Linked DNA regions of Homo sapiens. The protein of the gene in region 1 interacts with the protein of each later gene in a pairwise test. Each region holds a gene or a part of one and is shown in the gene's direction. Other genes may lie near its edges. The genes, in order: JPT2, RASA4, SLC25A20 and SEPTIN2.

The links.
Region 2: the proteins of JPT2 (region 1) and RASA4 interact in a two-hybrid assay, tested with the Homo sapiens proteins (one large-scale study listed by IntAct).
Region 3: the proteins of JPT2 (region 1) and SLC25A20 interact in a two-hybrid assay, tested with the Homo sapiens proteins (one large-scale study listed by IntAct).
Region 4: the proteins of JPT2 (region 1) and SEPTIN2 interact in a two-hybrid assay, tested with the Homo sapiens proteins (one large-scale study listed by BioGRID).

What each region holds. Positions count from the first base shown.
Region 1 is NC_000016.10:1,683,715-1,689,608, forward strand, and holds part of JPT2 (jupiter microtubule associated homolog 2), read left to right. Parts: intron 1-1,724; coding exon 1,725-1,873; intron 1,874-5,894. UniProt on the Homo sapiens protein: Nicotinic acid adenine dinucleotide phosphate (NAADP) binding protein required for NAADP-evoked intracellular calcium release. Confers NAADP-sensitivity to the two pore channels (TPCs) complex.
Region 2 is NC_000007.14:102,612,798-102,619,440, reverse strand, and holds the start of RASA4 (ras GTPase-activating protein 4), read left to right. Parts: upstream 1-2,684; 5' UTR 2,685-2,751; coding exon 2,752-2,816; intron 2,817-2,895; exon of another isoform or gene 2,896-2,918; intron 2,919-6,643. UniProt on the Homo sapiens protein: Ca(2+)-dependent Ras GTPase-activating protein, that switches off the Ras-MAPK pathway following a stimulus that elevates intracellular calcium. Functions as an adaptor for Cdc42 and Rac1 during FcR-mediated phagocytosis.
Region 3 is NC_000003.12:48,891,008-48,896,901, reverse strand, and holds part of SLC25A20 (mitochondrial carnitine/acylcarnitine carrier protein), read left to right. Parts: intron 1-4,829; coding exon 4,830-4,922; intron 4,923-5,894. UniProt on the Homo sapiens protein: Mediates the electroneutral exchange of acylcarnitines (O-acyl-(R)-carnitine or L-acylcarnitine) of different acyl chain lengths (ranging from O-acetyl-(R)-carnitine to long-chain O-acyl-(R)-carnitines) with free carnitine ((R)-carnitine or L-carnitine) across the mitochondrial inner membrane, via a ping-pong mechanism.
Region 4 is NC_000002.12:241,341,973-241,347,866, forward strand, and holds part of SEPTIN2 (septin-2), read left to right. Parts: intron 1-1,019; coding exon 1,020-1,121; intron 1,122-1,779; coding exon 1,780-1,925; intron 1,926-4,193; coding exon 4,194-4,277; intron 4,278-5,894.

The sequences.
Region 1 (5,894 bases):
TCCAGTCACAAGGAGCCCTCAGCGCTCTTTCTAGATCTTTTGAGGAGAAACTGTTATTTTTGTTAACCAAACCTTGAGTGGTCAGTGTTTGCAAAGCTTTCCAGTGAGATCTAACCTCATATCATAGTTTTTGTGTGATGTTGAGCCCTGTAATTTCAAGTATGGTCATCCTTGGTATCCTGCGGGAGTTGGTTCCAGGACCCCCAGGATGCCAAAATCCAAGGATGTGTAAGTCCTTGATATAAAGTGGTGTAATGTTTGCATATAACCTATGCACATCCTCCATATGCTTTTAAATCATCTCTAGGTTACAAGGTTACATATAATACCTAATACTATGCACATAGTTGTTACACCGTATCACCTGGGGAATAATGACAGAAAAGAAGTCTGTAGATGTTCAGTACAGATGCAACCATCCTTTTATTTCTGACATTTTGATCTGAGGTTGGTTGAATCCATGGAAGCAGAGCCCGTGGATACAGAGGGCTGACTTCGTTTCTAAACGTCTGGGATCACAGACAGTCCCATTGCTTAGGACTAGTGAGAGAGCATGTGCCACTCACTGGTTTAAATCTCAATTTCAGTAAGCCTCTCTCTCAAATGCATTTAAAAGTTTTTCCAGTTGTTATGAATTCAGCGTTTCACCGGTTTTTAATGTAGATAGTGCTCTAGAAATAGAGCTTTGTGGCAATTCCTTATTAGTTCTTAAGTTTAAGTTTTTACAATAAAAAGTGATTCAAGAGCCAGGTGCGATGGCCCACACCTGTAATCCCAGCACTTTGGGAGGCCGAGGCAGGTGGATCACCCCAGGTCAGGAGTTCGAGACCAACCTGACCAACATGGCGAAACCCCGTCTCTACTAAAAATACAAAATTAGCTGGGTGTGGTGGCGCATACCTGTAATCCTAGCTACGTGGGAGGCTGAGGCAGAAGAATTGCTTGAACCCAGGAGGCGGAGGTTGTGGTGAGCTGAGATTGCGCCATTGCATTCCTCCAGCCTGGGCAACAAGAGTAAAACTCCGTCTCAAAAAAAACAAACAAAAGTTAGCCAGGTGTTGTGGCAGGCACCTGTAATCTGAGCTACTCAGGAGACTGAGGCTGGAGAATCACTTGAACCCAGGAGGCAGAGGTTGCAGTGAGCTGAGATCGTGCCACTGCACTCCAGCCTGGGCGACAGAGCGAGACTCCATCTCAAAAAAAAAAAAAAAAGAATACTTTTAAGGGAAACTAAAGAGCAGCAGAAGTAGTCTGGCGTCTGTAAACTAGTCATACCAGTATTAACTAATGGTGGTATGTGATTTCTCAGTAGATGTTAAGAAAATACTTTTGCTGGGTATGGTGGCTCATACCTGTAATCACAGCACTTTGGGACGCCAAGGTGGGCAGATCACTTGAGCTTAGGGGTTCAAGACCAACTTTGGCAACATGGCAAAACCCTGTCTCTACCAAAAATACAAAAAATTAGCCAGCTGTGGTGGTGGGTGCCTGTAATCCCAGCTACTCAGGAGGCTGAGGTGGGAGGATCACTTGAGCCCAGGAGGCAGAGGTTGCAGTGAGCCAAAATCACGTCACTGCGCTCCAGCCTGGGTGACAGAATGAGACCTTGTCTCAAAAAGAAAAAAACAAAATACTTTTACCCTGTCTAGTTGTGCCAAAATCCTTGCACAGTGACAAGCTTTCAGGTCTGCCATCAGTAATTGGCATGTACTCTGTGCTTGTAGGGCCATGAAGCCCCCAGGAGGAGAATCGAGCAATCTTTTTGGAAGTCCAGAAGAAGCTACTCCTTCCAGCAGGCCTAATAGGATGGCATCTAATATTTTTGGACCAACAGAAGAACCTCAGAACATACCCAAGAGGACAAATCCCCCAGGTATGGGCCTTTGGAAATCCTTAATCCTTTGGCCTCCACGATTCTCTTTTGAAAATATTTTCTGTTTCTTTATACTGATCCTTTCCCATATTGTCTGGTTCAGGTAATCACTTGTTATCAGAGTTCTTCCAAAATGAAAACGTTCTGATTTGTACTTTCTCTCTTGAAGGTGACTTGAGTAGTCTTGAATTCTCCATCTGTTCTGGAGACTTTGGTTGAATACAGGCACTGAGGACACAAAAGTGGACGGGGGCTTCTGGTTCCTGCCAGGGAGCTGCTCCCAATTGTTCCACGGACCCCCATGAGATTCCTGAAATTGCGTGCAAATTATTGTGCATTTAAACATTTTTCCTAGGGAGGGAGAGTGTTTTTATTCAGATCGTCAGTGGGATTGAAACTCTTAACAAGGAAGAATTGATCTAGCACACATCTACATAGTTCTTCAGTATTTACCCAACCTCCTAGTGGTTACAGTAGGAGGGACTCTTTGAAAAAGGTTTCTTGGCCAGGCGCGGTGGCTCATGCCTGTAATCCCAGCACTTTGGGAGGCCAAGGTGTGCAGATCACGAGGTCAGGAGATCGAGACCATCCTGGCTAACACAGTGAAACCCCATCTCTACTAAAAAAGAAAAAAAATTAGCCGGGCGTGGTGGCGGGCACCTGTAGTCCCAGCTACTCAGGAGGCTGAGGCAGGAGAATGGCATGAACCCAGGAGGCGGAGCTTGCAGTGAGCCGGGATCGCACCACTGCATTCTAGCCTGGGTGACAGAGCGAGACTCCGTCTCAAAAAAAAAAAGAAAAAGAAAAAGAAAAAGGTTTCTCAGCCGGGCGTGGTGGCTCATGCCTGTAATCCTAGCACTTTGGGAGGCCAAGGCAGGTGATCATGAGGTCAAGAGTTTGAGACCAGCCTGGCCGACATGGCAAAACTCCATCTGTACTAAAAATACAAAAATTAGCTGGGTGTGGTGGTGCACGCCTATAATCCCAGCTACTCAGGAGGCTGAGGCAGGAGAATCACTTGAACCCGGGAGGTGGAGGTGGCAGTGAGCCAAATTCATGCCACTGCACTCCAGCCTGGGTGACAGCTAGACTCCATCTCAAAAAGAAAAAAAAAAAAAAATAGAAAAAGGTTTCTCTTGGCTGATAGACTGTCCAGTTGAATAACCACCCAGTGGAGGTTACCTGAGTCGCTTTCCCCCGTCTGTACAAGAGGGGAAAGCATGGTCTCTTCCATCCTTAGAAGGTTTGAGAGGCCGTGCTTAGGTGTCACTGTGTCAGGCAGGTCATGAATCAGAGCCAGATCCACTCCCGACCTCACTCCGTTTTGGGGTACCAATATTTATTGACCAAATGTAGAGGAAAAAAAGCAGTAGATCCAGAAACTAGTTTTTTCTTTTGTTTTTAGTCTGTTTTGAGACGGGGTCTCACTCTGTCGCCCAGGCTGGAGTGCAGTGTCACCACCATGACTCACTGCAGCCTTGACTTCCCAGGCTCAGGTGACCCTTTTTCCTCAGCCTCCTGAGTGGCTGGGACTACGGGCGTATGCCACCATGCTTAGGTAATTTTTTTTTGTATTTTTTGTGGAGACAGGGTTTAACCATGTTGCCTAGGCTGGTCTCGAACTCCTGGGCTCAAGCCATCTGCCCACCTCGGCCTCTCAAATTGCTGAGATTACAGACATGCACCCTTGTGCCCGGCCGAAGCTAGGTTTGCTGCTTGCCTTTTTTTGGTCTGTTTGGTTGCTTTTTTGGTTGTTAGAGAAATGAGTGTTTCTTATTAAGTGACTAACATTCTCGTTGTTTCCGGTTTATGAATTTAGGCCCAGGGACTCCTGCATGTCCTTTTTAGCAAGGATAGCAGAATAATATATCGCATGCAAGATAGAATCCTATCTGAGCCATTTCCAGGTGTATGAATCTGCTCATTTGGCCCCTACTCAGCAGAGTCATGTCTGGAGCTGTTCCTAGAGCACTCCATGGAAGGCAGGCGGTACCACTTTGCCCGTTCCACATGGTCTCATGCCCAGTGGGGAGCCCGGCCCCTTGCGGTTAGTGAGCCAGCCTCTACTCCTGGTCACAGTGTGTGGTGCCAGCCATCATGGCTCCCCATGCCAGGTTCCTGCTTCTCATGGTCCTTCTCACGGTTGTTGGGAGTTTTCCTATCTCTCCAGTGCTCTTGGAAGACGGTTTATGGTATATTATCAAGGGAAGCCTGAAAGGGAAACTGCTAGTTGTGTTCACCACCCAACGAGATCTGGAGTCCTGCCTTCTTTCTACACTTAGTCACACAGACCTAGCCCCACAGCCCTCTAGTTGCAGGGCTTGATTGAGAAAAGTATGCAGAGGCCGAGAGTGTGTGTGACCGACCACATCATAGCCATCGAATGTTTATCAATTCCCATTCAGTGTTTCAGTGAATCTTCAGTAGTCTCTGTGTTCTTTGTTAGTCACCTGGTTTAGATGTTCCATGAATTGTTCTTCCTCTTCTAGCAATGATGACCAACGTCTATGAATTGTTAATATTTACCGGGGACTGTGCTAAGTGCTTTGCATGTGTATTTTTCATTTGGTGTTCGCTATAACTAGGAGTAGGTTGTTTTGCTCCTTTCACAGAGGAGGAAACAGGCTTGGAAAAGGTCACTGGCATGCATAAATCCCAAGCTAGTCAGTAGCAGAGCTAGTCGGTAGCAGAACTAGTCCGTAGCAGAGCTAGTCGGTAGCAGACCTAGCCGGTAGCAGTGCTAGTCGGTGGCAGAGCTAGCCTTTGAATTGAGGTTTTTCTGACTCCAGATTCCATGCCTTAAACTGACTTCCTGAATGTATCCACTGGGATAAATTTCTCAAAATGGAATTGGTAGATCAGATGATATATGAGTTTAAAATATGGATAGATAGTTCCAACCGGTTTTTCAGGGCATTGCCTGGTGTTTACCATTCTTGTGTATGTGCTTATTTGCACCAGCAGTATTTATCTTTTAGTTTTGCTTTTAAAAACAAATCTTGTAGGCCAGGTGCGGTGGCTCACGCCTGTAATCCCAGCATTTTGGGAGGCCGAGGTGGGAGGATTGCCTGAGCCCAGGAGTTTGAAACTGGCTTGGGCAACATAGCGAGGCCCAATCTCCCAAATAAATAAATGATATTTTTAAAAACAAAATAACACAGAGCCCTTGGAAATCAAAAATCTAGCAGGAGGAAAAAACATCTCTCGAGTTTATCTTCAATTATTAGTGAATTTAAGCATGTTTTCTTGCTTCAAAGCTGAATTTATTTTTCAAGTAAAATGGTAATAGACATATGTGGTATGACTACCTAGTTATGAAGGTTAAAAGCAGAGGTACATTGTTTAGTACCTATTGCACGTATACGTGGTAAAAATGTTTGTGGTTTCCAAAAAATTCAGGAGTGTGGTAACCTTGGGTGAGAGTGAAGGAACACAGGAGTTTCTGGGAACGGGCACTGTTCTCGATGACTTTGGCAGTGGTTACCTGGTGTCTGCCTTGTAGTTATTTGTGATAGTTAATGTCTTACAGACTTTTCTGTTATGTTTCACAGTTTAACTATTTTTTAAAAATGAGTGATGTCTTTGGCCAAAAACTTCAAATTGAGTTACTTTTATCTTCTATTTTAAAAAGCTGGAGTCACATTAAAAAAAAAAAAAGTCAGCCGTTATAGCACAGCCAGGAACATTGCAGTGGGGGCTGGGGGTTGCACACACAGTTTTATCCGCCCCGTGGTCCTGACGTGCTTGTTGACACAGCCCTGCAGCATTGCTGAGGGCTTACTCAGCAGGCCAGGACTATTCTAACCACGTCACCTGAGTTAACTTGTTTAGCCTCACCAGTGACCCTAGGTAGGTATGATTATTTATTACCTTTTTTTTGTTTTGTTGGTTTTTTGAGACAGGATCTTAGTCTGTCACCCAGGCTACAGTGCAGTGGCACCATCACAGCTCACCGCCTCCAACTTCTGAGCTCAGGCAGTCCTCTCACCTCAACCTTCTGAGGAGCGGGACCAGAGGCTAA
Region 2 (6,643 bases), on another chromosome or scaffold:
TGACGAGGTCTCTCTCTGTCGCTCAGGCTGGAGTACAGTGGTGCCATCTCAGCTCACCGCAACCTCCACCTCCCAGGTTCAAGCGATTCTCCCTGCCTCAGCCTCCTGAATAGCTAGGACTACAGGCGTGCACCACCACGCCCAGCTAATTTTTATATTTATAGTAGAGACAGAGTTTCACCATGTTGGCCAGGCTGGTCTCAAACTCCCGACCTCAGGCGATCCACGCACCTCGGCCTCCCAAAGTGCTGGGATTCCAGGCGTGAGCCACCGCCCCTGGCCCATCTTCACTATTTTTAAGTGGACAGCACAGTAGTATTAACTATATGCACATCTCTGGAACTTTTTCACCTTGCAATACTGAAACCCTACACTCAACAAACAACTCGCTTTCCCTGCCCCGCTCCAGCCCCTGAAAACTTCTACTCTCCTTTCTGCTTCTGTGAATTGTACTATTCCAGATACCTCCCATAGGTGGAAGCAACCACTATTTGTCTTTCTTTGTAACTGGCTCATTTCACTTAGCATTATGTCTTCAAGTTTCATCCATCTTTTAGCATGTGTAAGAATTTCCTTCCTTGCTTTTTTTGTTTGTTTGTTTGTTTGTTGAGACTGAGTTTCACTCTTGTCACCCAGGCTAGAGTGCGATGGTGCGAACTTGGCTCACTGCGACCTCTGCCTCCCGGGTTCTCAAGCAATTCTCTTGCCTCAGCCTCCAGAGTAGCTGGGATTACAGGCGCCTGCCACCACGCCCGGCTAATTTTTGTATTTTTAGTAGATATGGGGTTTCGCCATGTTGGCCAGGCTGGTCTCGAACTCCTGACCGCAGGTGATCCACCCACCTCGGCCTCCCAAAGTGCTGGGATTACAGGTGTGAGCCACCACGCCTGGCCTCGTTTTTGTTTTTGTTTTTGGAGACAGAGTTTTGCTCTGTCGCCCACGCTGGAGTGCAGTGGTGCGATCATACCTCACTGCAGCCTCCCCTCCTAGGCTCAAGCAATCTTCCTGCCTCGGCTTTCTGAGTAGCTCGAACTACAGACACACACTACCATGCCTGGCTAATATTTTTATTTTTTGTAGCAAAGGTGGGGGGGGGTCTCATTATGTTGCCCTGGCTGGGCTTGAACTCCTGGCCTCAAGTGATCCTCCCATCTCAAGCCTCCCAAAGTGCTGGGATTATAGGCGTGAGCCGCTGTGCCCAGCCTCAAACACTTTTTCTTTCAACGACATTGACCTATAGTGAATATCAAAAGCATGCACTGAAACTCAAGAGCTGCCTCCTCTCCTGTGCCAGGATGCACTGTAACTTTTGTGAGCCCTAGGCATGTTTGACTTATATGGGTTAAGATATTCAAATACGGCTAGGCACGGTGGCTCACGCCTGTAATCCTAACACTCTGGGAGACCGAAGTGGGCAGCTCACCTGAGGTCAGGTGTTTGAGGCCAGCCTGGCCAACCTGGTGAAACTCCATCTCTACTAAAAATATAGAAATTACCCAGGCGTGGTGGCAGGTCCCTGAAGCTCTGGCTACTCGGGAGGCTGAGGCAGGAGAATGCCTTGAGTCAGGGAGGCAGAGGTTGCAGTGAGCTGAGATTGCGCTACTGCACTCCAGCCTGGGTGATAGAGCGAGACTCCACCCCAAAAAAAAGAAAAAAAAAAAGATATTCAAATGTGTATTTTACAACTGCTTTGGCATAAAGACTGACTGATACCAGTCAGGTCAGATTCATTATTACATATTCATTACTATTATACTCCTGTTTGACTAGGCATGGTGGGCTCACATCTGTGGTCCCAGCCCTTTGGGAGGCCAAGGCAGGAGGATAACTTGAGGCCAGGAGTTCTAGACCAGCCTGGGCAACATAATGAGACCCCCCCATTTCTACTAAAAATAAAAAAAATTAGCCAGTCGTGGTGGTATGCATCTGTAGTCCCAGCTACATGGGAGGCTGAGGTGGTAGGATTGCTTGAACCCAGGAGATTGAGGCTGCAGTGAGCTATGATTGCACCACTGCACTTCAGCCAACAGAGCAAGCCCCTGTTTCAAATGCATGCATACATACATACATACATACATACATACATACATACATACACACACAAACCAACCAATACAAAAAATACATATTTTTTTTCTTCTGATTCTAAAAAACATAAAAACAGCCAGGCACGATGGCTCATGCCTGTATTCCCAGCACTTTGGGAGGCCGAGGTGGGCAGATTACCTGAGGTCAGGAGTTCAAGACCAGCCTGGCCAACATGGTGAAACCCCGTATCTACCGAAAATACAAAAATTAGCTGGGCGTGGTGGCGCGTGTCTGCAATCCCAGCTACTTGGGAGGCTGAGACAGAAGAATTGCTTGAAACCGGGAGGTGGAGGTTGCAGTGTCCCCCACCCGCTCCTCCAGGGGCGCCCCCCTCGAGCCACCGCGCCGGCTGCCCGGCGAGTGTCAGCGCCTCCTCACAGGCCCCGCCCCTCACGCCCCAGACGGCCAATGAGAGCTGCGGCCCCGGCCGGCCCCTCCCCGCCCTGGGGAACCCCGGTCGCGGATTGGCCGGCCCGGGCGCAGTGTCCCCCGCACGTGGGGCGGGGGCGGGGTGAGTGGAGTGGCAGCGAAGCCCCGCCCCCGCCGCCCCGCCCCCGCCCCCGCCTCCTCCCCGGCCCGCCCCACCTGCGGCGCCCAGTCCAGCGCCCGCCGCCCGCCACCCCGGACCCCGGTGTCTGGCTTCCCCCGAGCCGGGACCCCGCGATGGCCAAGCGCAGCTCGCTGTACATCCGCATCGTGGAGGGGAAGAACCTTCCCGCCAAGGACATGTGAGCGCGGCCGGGGGTGGGAGCCCCAACTTTCCGGGGAGGGGCACTGCCCCCCAGGACGCCTGACCTTTCCGGGGTCCACCCACAAGAGCAGCGGAGAGGGTGCGGGAGTGCGGCCGTGGTGGGGGATCGGCGGGGAAAATGGGGACAGTGACATTTTCTGCGAGCACCAGACGGGGTGACAACCGGGGGGCGGGGAAGTGTCACCGAGGGCTGGGGGCTGGGAACTAGGGAGGGGGCGAGAATTTGTCAGCGATCCGCGGCTCACGAGGGGAAGGGGCTTTGATACGACAGGAGCTGGAGCCTGGTGACATGCCAGGGGAGACGTCTTGGTGATCTGCCCCCGGGGTGGGGTTGGAGGGGGTGGGGTGTCCCCCGCAAAGGAAGGGTCTTCCTCAGTAGTTCCAGAGCCCTTAATGCCCCGGAGTGTGCACCTGAAGCACATGCTGGGGCCCAGGGGCTGTCCCCGGGCTTCCTGCTGTGCACTCGGGTAGGAGGGACTGGCATGAAAAGTGAGAACAGGTCAGGAGGCCAGGACAGGTGCAGGACTGTGGGGGAGGGAAGGAGGGTAGTAACTGTCGCTTGTGCCTTGGGCTTTACACCTGAGCCATCCCGTTAATCCTCTCAACCACCCCGAAAGGCAGTTCTCACCGTTCCATTTTACAGATGAGAAAACTGAGGTTCAGAGAAGTGAAATGCTGGCTCCAAGTGGCAGGCAGAGCAGGGTCTTGAGTCTAGGGCTTCTCACAGGCACTGACATCTGGGGATTCCCCTGGTCCCTGGCTCGATTTGGGGAGGTTTCAGGGGCCCCTTGTTCCACTCTTCTCAGTAGGTCCCAGGGCTGAGCTGCCTGACCCCTGGCCCACCATCTTGGTCTTGCCACCACCTTCCTCATGTACAGGGTTTAGGCAGCTCCCTGCTCCTAGAGCCTCAGTTTCCCCTCTTTAAACTAGGGGTTGAAATCCCTCTAGAGGAAGAGGGGGAAAGCTCAAAGGTCAAGGGGCACTGGCTGCCTGGAGGAGGAGGGTGGGAGGGGGAAAAGTGGAGCCTGGAGGAAACAGAGTCCAAAGTCTGCGGAGCTGCAGTTCCCCACCCCTTGGGCGCCCCGGGCTCCTGGATGCAGAGAAGTGGCTAGCATGGGCGAGGGGGTGGAGCAGGGTGGGGGGCAGGCACTCTGCTCACACATATGTGTGGTGGCCCCTGTGAGCTTCCCAGCAAGCTCAGCGCGCCACCACCGAGAGCAGTGCCAGTTCCAGGCCCCCTGGGTCTGATGAGGCCCAGCTCAGCAGTTACCATGACAATGGGGAAGGGAGGGCGGTGGGCATCCCTAGGTGGGTTTCTGTGCTTGGAGGCTTGGAGGGAGGTGGAGTGGGAGCTGGCAGTGAGGTCTGTGGGCTGGGAAGGCAGAGGAGCTCTGAGAAGGGTCTCAGCCTCCAGGCCCAGCCTTTAAGCATCCCCCACCCCCTGCCACCACTGGCACTAGGAACTAGGTCATCTTGGCCTCTTCTGGCTGGTGGCAGCTGGGAGGAGCAGCCCCTCCGTCTGTCGCCTCCCTCCTCATCCCCACAGCAGCTGGCCCTAGTGCCTGGCTCCAGGCTCTCTCCAGCCCAGGGCAGCCAAGCTCTTGGAGTATGCCCACCTGGGAGCCCAGTGCCTGGTTCCCTGCTCAGTGCTTTGCCTCTGGGCAAAGGGGTTCCATCTACAGTGGAGGGGTGCCTTGGGATCTCGATCCTCACCCTGCCCCCCTGCCTGCCCTACTCACGTCTCCTTTGCAACCCCCCATCTTCCCCTGTGGCTTGCATACACAGCTCTGACCTGTCAGCCGCCTCTTAAACCATCCCATAAACAGTCCCTCACATTTGGGCTACTACCCTTCACATCTCTGCTTTCGCCCATGTGTGGGGACTTCTGCCTTCAAGCACTCCACTTCAGTCCTCCAGAAAACTCCTATTCAATGTTCAGGACTCCTCTCAAACTTCTCCTCTCCAGGGCATTCCCTGGTGCACTTGGGCAGAGTTCCTGGCTCCTGGGCTCGCCCCCCAGCACTCTGGGTGGCAGGAGGAAGCCCCTGGTGTGGCAGTTCCTCCGTCAAGTGGTGCCTGTCCCAGCTGACTGTGAGGGCAGGGACTGTGACTCATTCATCCTGGCACCGGGTCCATAGTAGGGAGAATAAGAGGTGTTGAGGACTTCCCCCACTTAATCCTCTTCTTAGCTTTATAAGATAGACATCCTCGGTTTGCACATTGGGAAACTGAGGCTCAGGAAGTGAAAGCCATTTGCCAAGAGGGTAGGTAGAGAAGTCAGGATTCAGATTGCCTTTGCTGCCGACAGGCTGAGAATTCTAGCCTGCCCGCGGCTGTAAGCTTGCGGCTGGGCTCAGTGAGACTGAGCCTCGGAAATCCTATGCAAAGCATTTGGCTGCAGAGTCGGGCAGGGGTTTGGAGATCATGGGAGGCCCTCACTGAGTACTGGAGTTTCACTGTGCCTCACCAGCACCCCGCCTATCTTCTGAGTAGCATCTCCTCCAGCCAGGGCTTGCATACTTCTGAGGACGGGGAGCTTACCACCTCTCATAGTGGCTCATCTTGACTGAGACAGTTCCAAGGAGGAAGCTGTCCTCACACAGCTGCCAGCTGCCTTCCTGCCACTTCTACTCATGGGTTTTTATTCCTCTAAAGGGCACAGAGCGCAGCTGCATTCCCCATCACTGCTAGCTTTCAGAGCCTGCCTGTTCCTGCCCTGCCTCTTCCCACTGTCTCTCGTCCCCACGTACCTAGGCATGAGCCAAGTCTCACGATGACCAGTGACCCACTGCCTCCCACACCAAGTGGCCTTGGGGACTGGCCCAAGGCTATTTTGGGGTTTTCCCTGATCCTCCTCCTTCCACAGCCTAGAAACTGCCAAGGCCCTAAATATAGAGGCCCCGAAAGTAGCCAGACAGGCCAGTGGCAACTGGCTCGGGAAAGGAGAAATGAGAGAGGTGGGCAGCCTAGGGGCCTCAACACTAGCGAAGAAGGAACTGGGCAGGGCTTGGGTCCCAGCAGCCCACTGGGGACCATGGTTGGGCCCAGGTCCTTAAATCTGGCCTCGGCCTGCTCTCAATACCGTCCTCTTGCCCCACCTCTGATCCAGCCACCCGGCTCTTCATAGTCCTTGCACACCAGGACTCGGGTCCTGCTTCCAGGCCTTTGGAAGCAGTAGCAGCCCAGTAGTGGGGGACAGCCCACGGAGGTCCCCTGTTGCCTCAGTCAGTACTGACCTCTCCCTGCCTCCTCTGAGCTCCTTGTATGGCTCCTGGATCCTGCAGCCCAGCCCAGCACCTGGGGTGTTCAGAGGCCTGATTTCTTAGCACCTGGAGTCCCCTGGCTTTGGGTTGATGGGATGCAAGCTGGGGTATTCACAGGGGGCTCCCTGGAGGTGGGGGGGCTCTTTATTTTATTTTATTTATTTCTGAGACAGAGTCTTGCTCTGTTGCCCAGGCTGGAGTGCAGTGGCGCGATCTTGGTTCACTGCAACCTCCTCCTCCGGGGTTCAAGGGATTCTCCTACCTCAGCCTCCCCAGTAGCTGGGATTACAGTTGTACACCACCACTACATTCGGCTAATTTTTGTATTTTTCGTAGAGACGGGGTTTCACCATGTTGGCCAGGCTGGTCTGGAACTCCTGGCCTCACGTGATCTGCCCACCTCGGCCTCCCAAAGTGCTGGGATTACAGGTGTGAGCCACCACACCTGGCCAGGAGGCGGGGGCTCTCAAATGATGGCAGGGGGAGGTTACAGTCAGAGATGCAGGCAGTGCTAACATTTACTGAGCACCTCCAAGACCTT
Region 3 (5,894 bases), on another chromosome or scaffold:
CCCAGACAGTCTGATGGGAAGGCAGGAGTGAAGGTGAGTGTGGCTTGCAAGTGGGGATCATATTATAAAATAAGACAACCTAGGCCGGTCACGGTGGGCTCATGCCTGTTAATCCCAGCACTTTGGGAGGCTGAGGCAGGTGGATCACCTGAGGTCAGGAGTTCGAGACCAGCCTGGCCAACATGGTGAAATCCCATCTCTACTAAAAATACAAAAAAAAAAAATTGGCTGCATGTGGTGGCAGGTGCCTGTAATCCCAGCTAATTGGGAGGCTGAGGCAGGAGAATCGCTTGAACCCACAGGGCGGAGGTTGCAGTGAGCTGAGATTGTGCCATTGCACTCCAGCCTGGGTGACAGAGTGAGACTCCTTCCCAAAAACAAAACAAAACAAAACAAAACAAAACAAAACAAAACAAAAACCACCTGCAAAGGACTTTAATGTTCTTGCTGGTTTGGATGGCTGATATCCTGTTGAGACAGGTATGAGGTATGAAGTGTATATAAAATCACAAAAAGGCAGCCTTGGCAACATGGCAAGACCTCATGTCTATAAAAAATACAAAAATTAGCTGGGCATGGTGGTGCACATCTGTAATCCCAGCTACTCAGGCGGCTGAGGCTGGAGGATCGGTTGAACCTAGGAGTTTGAGGCTGCAGTGAGCCTTTGCACTCCATTCTGGGCAACAGAATGAGACACTGTCTCAAAAGAAAAAAAAAATCACAACAAGGTATTAGTCAGAATTTTTTTTTTTTTTTTTTTTGAGACAAGACTCTCCCTCTGTCACCCAGGCTGGAGTACAGTGGCAGGATCTTGGCTCATGGCAACTTCCATCTCCCGAGTTCAAGCAATTCTTTTGCCTCAGCCTCCTGAGTAGCTGGGATTATAGGTGCCCACCACCATGCCTGGCTAATTTTTGTATTTTTAGTAGAGATGGGGTTTCTCCATGTTGGGCAGGCTGGTCTCAAACTCGTGGCCTCAAGTGATCCTCCGGCCTTGGCCTCCTGAAGTGCTGGGATTATAGGTGTGAGCCACTGTACCTGGTCTAGTCAGAAGCTTTGATCCATTTCTCTCTCTCTACTAACTAGGGGAGGTTATGCCTGACTATGGGAGATCTGAAGGACAATATGAGGGATTTTGGATGTAAAGGTATGGTGGCCTCTGGGCATTTCTATTGTGTCCCATAAACCCCTCAGACTTACGTGTCACCTCTGTTGCCCAGAGAGGGACTTCCTTGGTTTGATATGGAAGGCCCTGACAAATACAAGAATAATAAATTCTAAAGAAATTATTAAAAAAATGGTAAAAATGATGATATAGAAGGACCTGACAAATACAAGAATAAGAGATTCCAAAGAAATAAAGAAACAACATGGTAAAAATGATGTTTTGGAAAGGTTAGTATAATAGCAACCTTGAGAAGGATTTGGAAGCAGAACAGTGAGCAGGAAAAACATCCAGGAAGGGCTGGGCGCGGTGGCTCACGCCTGTAATCCCACTTTGGGAGTCTGAGGCGGGCAGATCACCTGAGGTTGGGAGTTCAAGAGCAGGTGACCAACATGGAGAAGCTCCGTCTCTACTAAAAATACAAAATTAGGCCAGGCATGGTGGCTCACGCCTATAATCCCAGCACTTTGGGAGGCTGAGGCGGGCAGATCACCTGAGATTGGACGTTCGAGACCAACCTGAGCAACGTGGAGAAATCCCATCTCTACTAAAAACACAAAATTAGCTGGGCTTGGTGGTGCATACCTGTAATCCCAGCTACTTGGGAGGCTGAGGCAGGAGAATCGCTTGAACCCAGGAGGCAGAGGTTGCGGTGAGCCCAGATCGCACCATTGCTGTGCAGCCTGGGCGACGAGTGAAACTACATCTCAAAAAATAAATAAATAAATAAAAATAAATATACAAATGCAAAATTATCCGGGAGTGGTGGCACATGCCTGTAATCCCAGCTACTTGAGAGGCTGAGGCAGGAGAATCGCTTGAACCTGGGAGGCAGAGGTTGCGGTGAGCCAAGATCATGCCATTGCTCTCCAGTCTGGGCAATGAGTGAAACTCTGTCTCAAAACAAAACAAAACAAAACAAAATTCAGGAAAAAGACTGCAGAAGTAACTGGATATATCAGTTATCTATTGTGGTTTACCAGTTTCCTCCAATGAGGCAGGAGGATCACTTGAGCCCAGGAGTTTAAGGCTGCAGTTAGCCAAGATGGCACCACTGCATGCCAGCTTAGGTGACAGAGCAAGACCTTGTCTCAAAAAAACCCAAAAAACCAAACCAACTTACCCCAAAACTTAATGGCTTAAAACAACAATAAACATTTATCAGGGCCGGGCCGGTGGCTCATGCTTGTAATCCCGGCACTTTGGGAGGCCGAGGCGGGTGGATCACCTGAGGTCAGAAGTTCGAGACCAGTCTGGCCAACACAGCGAAACCCTGTCTCTACTAAAAAAAAAAAAAAAAATGCAAAAGTTACCTGGGTGTGGTGGCACGCACCTGTAATCCCAGCTACGCGGGAGGCTGAGACAGGAGAATCACTTGAACCCAGGAGGCTTGTGGTGAACTGAGATTGAGCCACTGCACTCCAGCCTGGGTGACAGAGCAAGACTCTGCCTCAAAAAAAAAAAAAAAGACAATCCAATTAAAAATCGGCAAAGACTCCAGCCTGTAAGACCCTGTCGAGAGAGAGAGAGAGAGAGAGAGAGAGAGAGAGAGAATCTTCTTCTTTTTTTTTTTTTTTTGAGAAGGAGTCTCACTCTTGCCCAGGCTGAAGTGCAAAGGTGCGATTTTGACTCACCACAACCTCTGCCTCCCGGGTTCAAGCAATTCTCCTGCCTCAGCCTCCCAAGTAGCTGGGATTACAGGTGCGTGCCACCACACCTGGCTAATTTTTGTATTTTTAGTGGAGACAGGGTTTTGCCATGTTGGCCATGCTGGTCTTGAACTCCTGACCTCAGGTTATTGACCCACCTCAGCCTCCCAAAATGCTGGGATTACAGGTGTGAGCCACCGCGCCTGGCCTCCTTTTTTTTTTTTTTTTTTTTTTTCTTTTTTAAAGAGACTGGGTCTTGGCTGGCCATGGTGGCTCATATCTGTAATCGTAGCACTTTGGGAGGCTAAGGCAGGCAGATTGTATGAGTCCAGGAGTTCCAGATCAGCCTGGGCAACATGGTGAAAACCCATCTCTACAAAAAAACCAAAATTAGCCGAGCATGGCATGCACCTGAGGTCCCAGCTACTTGGGAGGCTGAGGTGGGAGGATCACCTGAGCCTGGGAGGCGAAAGTGGCAGTGAGCCAAGATCATACCACTGCACTCCAGCATGGGCGAGACAGTGAGACCCTGTCTCAATAAATAAATAAAAAGAGACCAGGTCTTGCTCTTTTACCCAAGCTGAAGTGTAGTGGCACCATCACAGTTTTCTGTAATCTTGAACTCCTGGCCTCAAGTGATCCTTCCACCTCTGCCTCCCAAAGTTCTGGGATTACAGATGTGAGCCACCACACCCAGCCATGGACCTAAATAGGCATTTCTCTGAAGATGGGCTAATAAGCATGTGAGAAGTTGTTCAGTGTCATTATCCATCATGGAAATGCAAATCAAAATCACAATGACATACCACCTCATACCCAATATGATGGCTTAAAAAAAAAAGTTAGATATAGAGCAATATAGTGAGATTCTGTCTCTACAAAAACAATAAAAATTAGCCTGGCATTGTGGTGTGCACCTGTAGTCCCAGCTGCTTGGGGGGCTGAGGTGGGAGGATTGCATGAGCCCAGGAGGTCAAGGTTGTAGTGAGCTATTGACCACACCGCCGCACTCCAGCCTGAGTGACAGAGTGAAACCTTGTCTCCAAAAAAAAAAAGTATATATATATAAAGATAATAAGTATTGAAGATATGGAGAAATTGGGACCCTCCTAGACTGCTTATGGGAATATAAAATGGTGCAGCCACTTTGCAAAACAGTCTGGCAGTTCCTCAAAAGGTTTAAACAGAGTTGACATATAAGTTAGAAATTATGCCAGTGGATAAATACCTGTGATGGTTAATTTTATGTGTCACCTTGACTAGGCCACAGAGTACCTAGGTATTTGGTCACACATTATTCTGAGTGTGCTTGTGAGGGTGGTTTTGGATATTAACATTTGAATCTGTGGACTGATTAAAGCTAATTGTCCTCCCTAATGTGAGTGGACCTCATCCAGTTGAAGGCCTAAATAGATCAAAAGGCTGACTGACACTTCCTGCAAGTAAGAGGGAACTCCTGCCTGAATACTTGAGGTGGGACATTAGTCTTTTCCCGCCTTCAGACTTGAACTGAATCATTGGTTCTTTTTGGGTCTCAAACTTGCCGACTACAGATCTTGGGACTTCTCAACCTTTATAATTGTATGAGCCAATTGCTTATAATAAATCTCTTGATATATATCTCCTGTTGGTTCTGTTTCTCTGGAGAATTCTGACCAATACAATACCGAAGAGAACTGAAAACATATATCCACACAAAAAACTTGTACACAAATGTTTATAGCAGCATTATTCATAATAATCAAAAAGTAGGAAAAACACAAATGTCTATGAACTGATGAATAGGCAGGCATACAAAATGTGATTTATTCATACGATGGGATATTATTTGCCAATAAAAGGAATGAAGTACTAATGAAATGAAAGAGAAGTTTGAATCCAGCAGGTTAAGTGAATGCCAAAGACATGTACAAGGGTACAGCCTTCCCTGTTCAGTTTGGCAGACAGTTGGGCCATTGCTGCTGACAGGCAGTTCTGATTCTGGTAGGTGACTGCATTTTAACTTCTGTTTTCAGGTCCGACTGCAGACACAGCCACCGAGTTTGCCTGGACAACCTCCCATGTACTCTGGGACCTTTGACTGTTTCCGGAAGACTCTTTTTAGAGAGGTTGGTATATGGTGCTGGGCATTCCTCTTACTCAGAACACATTCACGGGGTTGATTTGTTACCCCCAAGGAGAGTAGGTTAACTGTGTGGTTCTGCTGGACAGCTAGCTCACAGCTGCCGCTCCTTCACCACGCCACCCTGTGCCCCCCTGTTGTCATCTGCTTTGGAGTCTCTGATAGTTCTAGCTACTGTTTTATACAGATGACTAAGGCTAATAAAATGGTTCTCTCTTTTGGAAGATGGAATTTAGACGACGGAGAACTAGTGAGTAATAATTGAGATGTGAAATGGAAGAAAATGTACATCTGAGCTGGGTGTGGTGGCTCACGCCTCTAATCCTAGCGCTTTGGGGGCCAAGGCAGGTGGATCACTTGAGGTCAGGAGTTTAAGACCAGCCTGGGCAACATGTAGAGAGTGTCATCTCTACAAAAAATGCAAAAATTAGAGGGGCATGGTAGCGCATGTACATCTGTAGTCCCAGCCACTCAGGAGACTGAGGTGGGAGGATCACTCCACCAGGAGGTAGAGTTTGCAGTGAGCCAAGATTGCACCACTGCACTCCAACCTGGGTGACAGAGTGAGACCCTGCCTGAAAAACAAAAAAAGGCCAATCATGGTGGCTTACGCCTATAATCCCAGCACTTTGGGAGGCCAAGGTGGGTGGATTGCCGGAGTTCAGGAGTTCAAGACCACCCTGGCCAACATCATGAAACCCCGTCTCTACTAAAAATACAAAAATTGGCTGTGCACGGTGGCATGCGCCTGTAGTCCCAGCTACTTGGGAGGCTGAGGCACGAGAATCGCTTGAACCCAGGACGGGGAGGTTGCAGTGTAGGGTCCAGCCCTACGGGGCTTAGCGGATGTTTTCCCCATGTGTGGAGATGAGAGATCATAAGAAATAAAGACACAAGACAGAGATAAAGAGAAAACAGCTGGGCCGGGGGGACCACTACCAAGACATGGAGACTGGTA
Region 4 (5,894 bases), on another chromosome or scaffold:
TTCTTTCTCCCCTCAAGCCCCATCCCCCACACTACTGCCTGCTTGATAGGTCCGATTGTGGGATTTCACTGCTGACTGCTGGCTGCCTGTTGAATGAAATACAGATCCCCAGGTCGCTAGCCTGGTGTTGATGGAACTCTCCACTTTGTAATTCCAATTTTTGTTTCCTTATCCAACTGGATGTCTTAGATTCCAACCTTTTGAATTTCTTATTCTCAAAATGCACCCCATGTGTCCTCTCTGTGCCTTTGACGAGGTTTTGTTTTTTTTTCTTTCTTTCTTCCTTTTTTTCCATCTGGGGTACTTCTCCCTTCTCTCTGCTTTTAAGACTCCTGCCTGTTCTCCAGGGTCTTCTCATGCCTGTAGCTTCTCTGTGGCAATTACCCTTCTTGAGGCTGATTGTGGTGTGATTTCCATTTTAGCTGTTGTGCTGGGGCTATCGTTAGTCTTCCTGCTGCTTTGTACATTGAGGGTAGTGGTGCATTATTGCTAATGTTATTTTTATTCTGTACAGAGGATCCTCAAAATTCAAGTATAAATACCTTTCTAGCAGTTTTGTAAATTTTTTTTTTTTTTTTTTTTTTTTGAGACGGAGTCTTGCTCCGTCACCCAGGCTGAAGTGCAGTGGTCTCAGCTCACTGCAAGCTCCGCCTCCCGGGTTCACGCCATTCTCCTGCCTCAGCCTCCCCAGCAGCTGGGACTACAGGCGTCCACTGCCACGCTTAGCTAATTTTTTTGTATTTTTAGTAGAGACAGGGTTTCACCATGTTAGCCAGGATGGTCTCCATCTCCTGACCTTGTGATCCACCTGCCTCGGCGTCCCAAAGTGCTGGGATTACAGACGTGAGCCACCACACCCGGCCGCAGTTTTATAAATTTATTTGACAGTAACTTTCGTCATCAGTTTGATTATTGACATTTGTATGATTTCCAATATATTTCTTACAAGATGAGCTAGAATTGGCTACAATAACATACGCAGTTTGCTAAAATTGATCCTGGTTTTGTCATTCTCTCAGATTCTGGATGAAATTGAAGAACATAACATCAAAATCTATCACTTACCTGATGCAGAATCAGATGAAGATGAAGATTTTAAAGAGCAGACTAGACTTCTCAAGGTAAGAACTGGCTTCAGATCCACAACATAAATAACTCCTGTTTACTGTTGTCCATGTTGAGGTGAGAGAGATTGCCTGGGTATGTTCAGTTACGAGAGTATTTTTGCTTTCAATATATTTTAAGACCTCATGCAGTGGCTCATGCCTATAATCCCAGCACTTTGAGAGGCCAAGGCAGATGGATCAGTTGAGGCCAGGAGTTCCAGACCATCCTGGCCAACATGGTGAAATCTCATCTCCATCAAAAATACAAAAATTAGGTGGATGTGGTGGTGCACACCTGTAGTCCCAGCCACTCGGGAGGCTAAGGCAGGAGAATCACTTGAACCCAGGAGGCAGAGGTTGCAGTGAGCCGAGATCGCGCCTCTGCACTCTAGCCTGGCGACAGAGCAAGACTCTGTCTCAAAAAAAAAAAAAATTTGATACAGCTATCACCTAAAGCTTAGAAATTTTATTGTAGGTTTAATTTGTTTTCGTACAATTTGTCCCATGTAGAAAGTATCTGACACTTTTCAAGAAAATGTTACATACCCCCAGCTTTCCAATTCAGTTTTGTAGTCAACAGCAATGTGTTAAGTCTGTGCTAATGTTCTCGTGTTGCCAGTGAACTCTGGGGTTCCCTGTGTGGAGCCTGTCTACTCTGTGTGTCTCTTTCTAGGCTAGCATCCCATTCTCTGTGGTTGGATCCAATCAGTTGATTGAAGCCAAAGGAAAGAAGGTCAGAGGCCGCCTCTACCCCTGGGGTGTTGTGGAAGTGGAGAACCCAGAGCACAATGACTTTCTGAAGCTGAGAACCATGCTCATGTAAGACATTTGGTGTGTTCCTTCTGGCAGAATTTGGCGTGAAGAATATGGATTTCAGACGGGGTGTACACTTGGCCCCCAAGATAGTTGCAGCCAGCAGCTTCATTGCCGCCCTCAGTGTTTCTCACATCGCAGAAGTGGTGTGGGGCTGTTGCAGATTGGTGCTGAGAACCCTCACCCAGGGGCCCTCTGTGGCACTACTAAACTAGCGCTTCTGCCTGTGGCCTGTAGCCTGCAGTACCTTTCCTTCTTGCTAAGATCTTACATCTTTGATGTTAAAAGGAGAAAAGGAGACTAGAACCTAAACTGGGGTCTGAGAGGTCCCCAGTGCTGGTAAGGAAACAGTCAGGCTGTATAGGCCCCTGGTCCACTGCTCCAGGCTGAGCCACCCCTGGTGCCCTGCTCACCAGTCTGAGACTCATTGTATGGCCCTGGTTAGCTTTTTGTGTCTTCCATTTATTATTAATAGCAATTACAGACCTGACTACAAAAATAGTCTTCTTTAAAAATGAATTTCATGGCTGGGCGTGGTGGCTCACACCTGTAATCCCAGCACTTTGGGAGGCTGAGGCAGGCAGATCACGAGGTCAGGAGTTCAAGACCAGCCTGACCAACATGGTGAAACCCCATCTGTACTTAAAGTGCAAAAAATAAATTAGCCAAGCGTGGTGGTGCGCACCTGTAATCCCAGCTACTCAGGAGGCTGAGGCAGGAGAATCACTGTTGAACCAGGAGGCAGAGGTTGCAGTGAGCCAAGATTGCACCACTGCACTCCAGCCTGGGCGACAGAGCGAGACTCTGTCTCAAAAAAATAATAAATTAAATAAATAAATTTCACATATTGTAACATGCATACATTGCTTTTACTCTTGAAAAAAGAGGCTGAGGCCGGGTGCGGTGGCTCATGCCTGTACTCCTGGCATTTTGGGAGGCCCAGGCGGGCGGATCACTTGAGGTCAGGAGTTTGAAACCAGCCTGGCTGACATGGTGAAACCAGCCTGGCCGACATGGTGAAACCAGCCTGGCCAACATGGTGAAACCCTGTCTCTACTAAAAATACAAAAAAATTAGCCGAGTGTGGTGGTGGGTGCCGGTATTCTCAGCTACTTGGGAGGCTGAGGCAGGAGAATCGCCTGAACCTGGAGGTGGAGGTTGCAGTGAGCCGGGATTGCGCCACTGCACTCCAGCCTGGGCAACAAGAGCAAGACTTCATCTCAAAAAAAAAAACCAAAAAGAACAGGCTGAGAGTATTGCTTAAACTATACCTCTTTAATCAGAGGACTTCAAAGAATGACTGATGTGGATAAATCAGTGTTTTGATTAGCTGAAAGTCGCTACATATTTGCCGCATGTCTCACTTAGTTTAGCAATTTGTAGTGAGTTAAAATAAGTAAGCATGTTACCATCCAAGCTGTGTCAAACACAATTTAATGGTTGTGTAAGAAGTTAAGCGCACTCAGCCCCTCCAGGGCTGCATCCTTGTGGCTATCCTGATCCCCATTATTGAGGGGGGTGTAGAGGCTGAAGACAGGGTTTGGGGACTTTACTTTAGTGTCAGTTGTGTGTTTCTCACAATGAGGTAGAGTGAGCCACTCCTTGGCTATCTCAATCCATTTCCCTGGATCCTGAATCAATAGGAACGTGTTACAATGTTTGCTCATTCTTGCCTGCTTTTAAGTATTTTGAATAAGCTAGGCAATTAAAAAAAATTTTTTAAGAGTGCTTCATAAGATGAATGGAAGGTTAAGTTGCTGACTAATATTCTTGGATCCAGAATATTAGTCCTTCACTTTATGGTCTTGTACATAGCTTAAGCTAACCAACTCTTTTTTCTCATATGAGAGTAATATATAAATTTTGAGTTATAGGAGGCATGAATATTTTCATTACATTTTCCGTAAGTCCTTTTAGAAGAGTGTCTTCTATTTCAGACATTGTTGACCTGAAAATCTCTTAAAATCTGTCTGCCATCCTGTGGTAGTGATGGCCTCACACAGGGGTGGCAGTGCCTCTAGCAGAAATCCCCCTGAGAGACTCAGTCGAGACCTGTGTTTGTATATCATTTATTGGGGAAGAAAGGGAGAGCTACACCTCACTAGACATTTCCACGGCCATACTCATTATCCTGAAATCCCAGCAGCTTTATGTACAATTTACCAAGTAATTTTAATTACTGCTATTTCTTCTATGTACTTGATGGGTGGTTTTTTTTCTCATGAGAATGTCATGTGCATGATGCCACCTTGGTGCATTCCTCTTCTCTTTCAGCACCCACATGCAGGATCTCCAGGAGGTGACCCAGGACCTTCATTATGAAAACTTCCGTTCTGAGAGACTCAAGAGAGGCGGCAGGTCATCACACTGTGCCCCTTTCTCTGTATTGTGTCACCCTGAGCCACAATGTTCCTCCTCCTCTATGTGTTCAGCTCAGCCTTCTTGACCATTAAGCAACATGGTTTGGTTTCCTACTCAAAAGTTATTATAAAAGAGTTGTTAATTTAATCAAATTATGCTCTTTTAGCCTTTTTAAGAAAAAGTACATTTAATGATATGCACGTAAAAACTTTAGGCCAGGCACGGTGGCTCATGCCTGTAATCCCAGCACCTTGGGAGACCAAGGCAAGGTAGATTGCCTGAGCGCAGGAGTTTTGAGACCATGAGATTACATGGTGAAGTCCCATCTCTACAAAAATTTAAAAAAAAAAAAATTAATTTAGCCGGGCATGGTGGCACACACCTATAATCCCAGCTACTCGGGAGGCTGAGTTGGGAGGAGCAGTTGAGCCTGGGAGGTGCAGTGAGCCATAATTGCACCACTGCACTTTATCCTGGGCAATAAAACAAGACCCTGTCTCAAAAAACAAACAAAAACTTTAGATGGAAAGGCCAGAGGCTTGTGTCGAGTTCTCCTTCAAAAGCATCACTCTGTACGTGAGGACAAACTTGTTGCCATTAGGAAACTGCAGCACCTGAGTTAAGGGTGAGGCCAGGATGAGTGGCATCCAAGCAGCCAGTGGCCGTTGAAGCAGCAGCTTCGATCCTCGCAAAGTCCTGCAGCCATCCTCACTCACCTTTTCTTTTTAACCATTCTAATATGTTTTTATATAAGTTTTCTGGGAGGCCAAGGCAAGTGGATCACTTGAACCCAGTAGTTTGAGACCGGCCCTGGCAACATAGGGAGACCTCGCCTCTATAAAAATTTTTTTTAAATTAGCCAGATGTGGTGGTGCATGCCTGTGGTCCCAGCTACTAGGGGGAGGATTCCTTGAGCCCAGTAGGTCCAGGCTGCAGTGAGCTATGGTCGCACCACCACGCTCCAGACTGGGCAACAGAGTGAGACCCTGTCTCAACAACAAAAGTTTCCTGTGTTGTAATTCATTAAAATTCTCACATTCTAATAATTTGATGGATTTCTAGATACATATGTTGTACACATTGAAGTCTAATTATGAGTTTGGAAATGAGACATTAAGAAAGATTTTAGAGGCAGCAAGAAAATTCCACCCTCTGGAAGCTGAGTAGGCGCTGGCCCTGAGATGGAGATTAGTGTGCTTTGCAGAGCACAGTTCTCAGGTGTGCTTGGGGAGCTTACCCTTTGCCCCTCGTTCACTCACGCAGATCCTGCTCCTTAAATGTGGTGACTACATTCGCATTAATAAAGAATAACATCTCAAAGCAAATTCTTCAGATAATACCTATTTTTGAGTGGGTAACAGCAAGTGTTGTCGCTCAAGCTTAGAGTAAGAAAAGTCTCTTGAATGTTCCATTTCATGTTGTTCGAACTTTTTAAAATCATTCTGTTCCCTTTTTATTCATTATATCTTTAATTAGAAAAATGATAGGCTGGGCGTGGTGGCTCATGCCTGTATTCCCAGCACTTTGGGAGGCCAAGGTGGGCGGATCACTTGAGGTTCAACACCAGCCTGGCCAACGTGGCAAAACCCCATCTCTACTAAACACAAAAAAAAT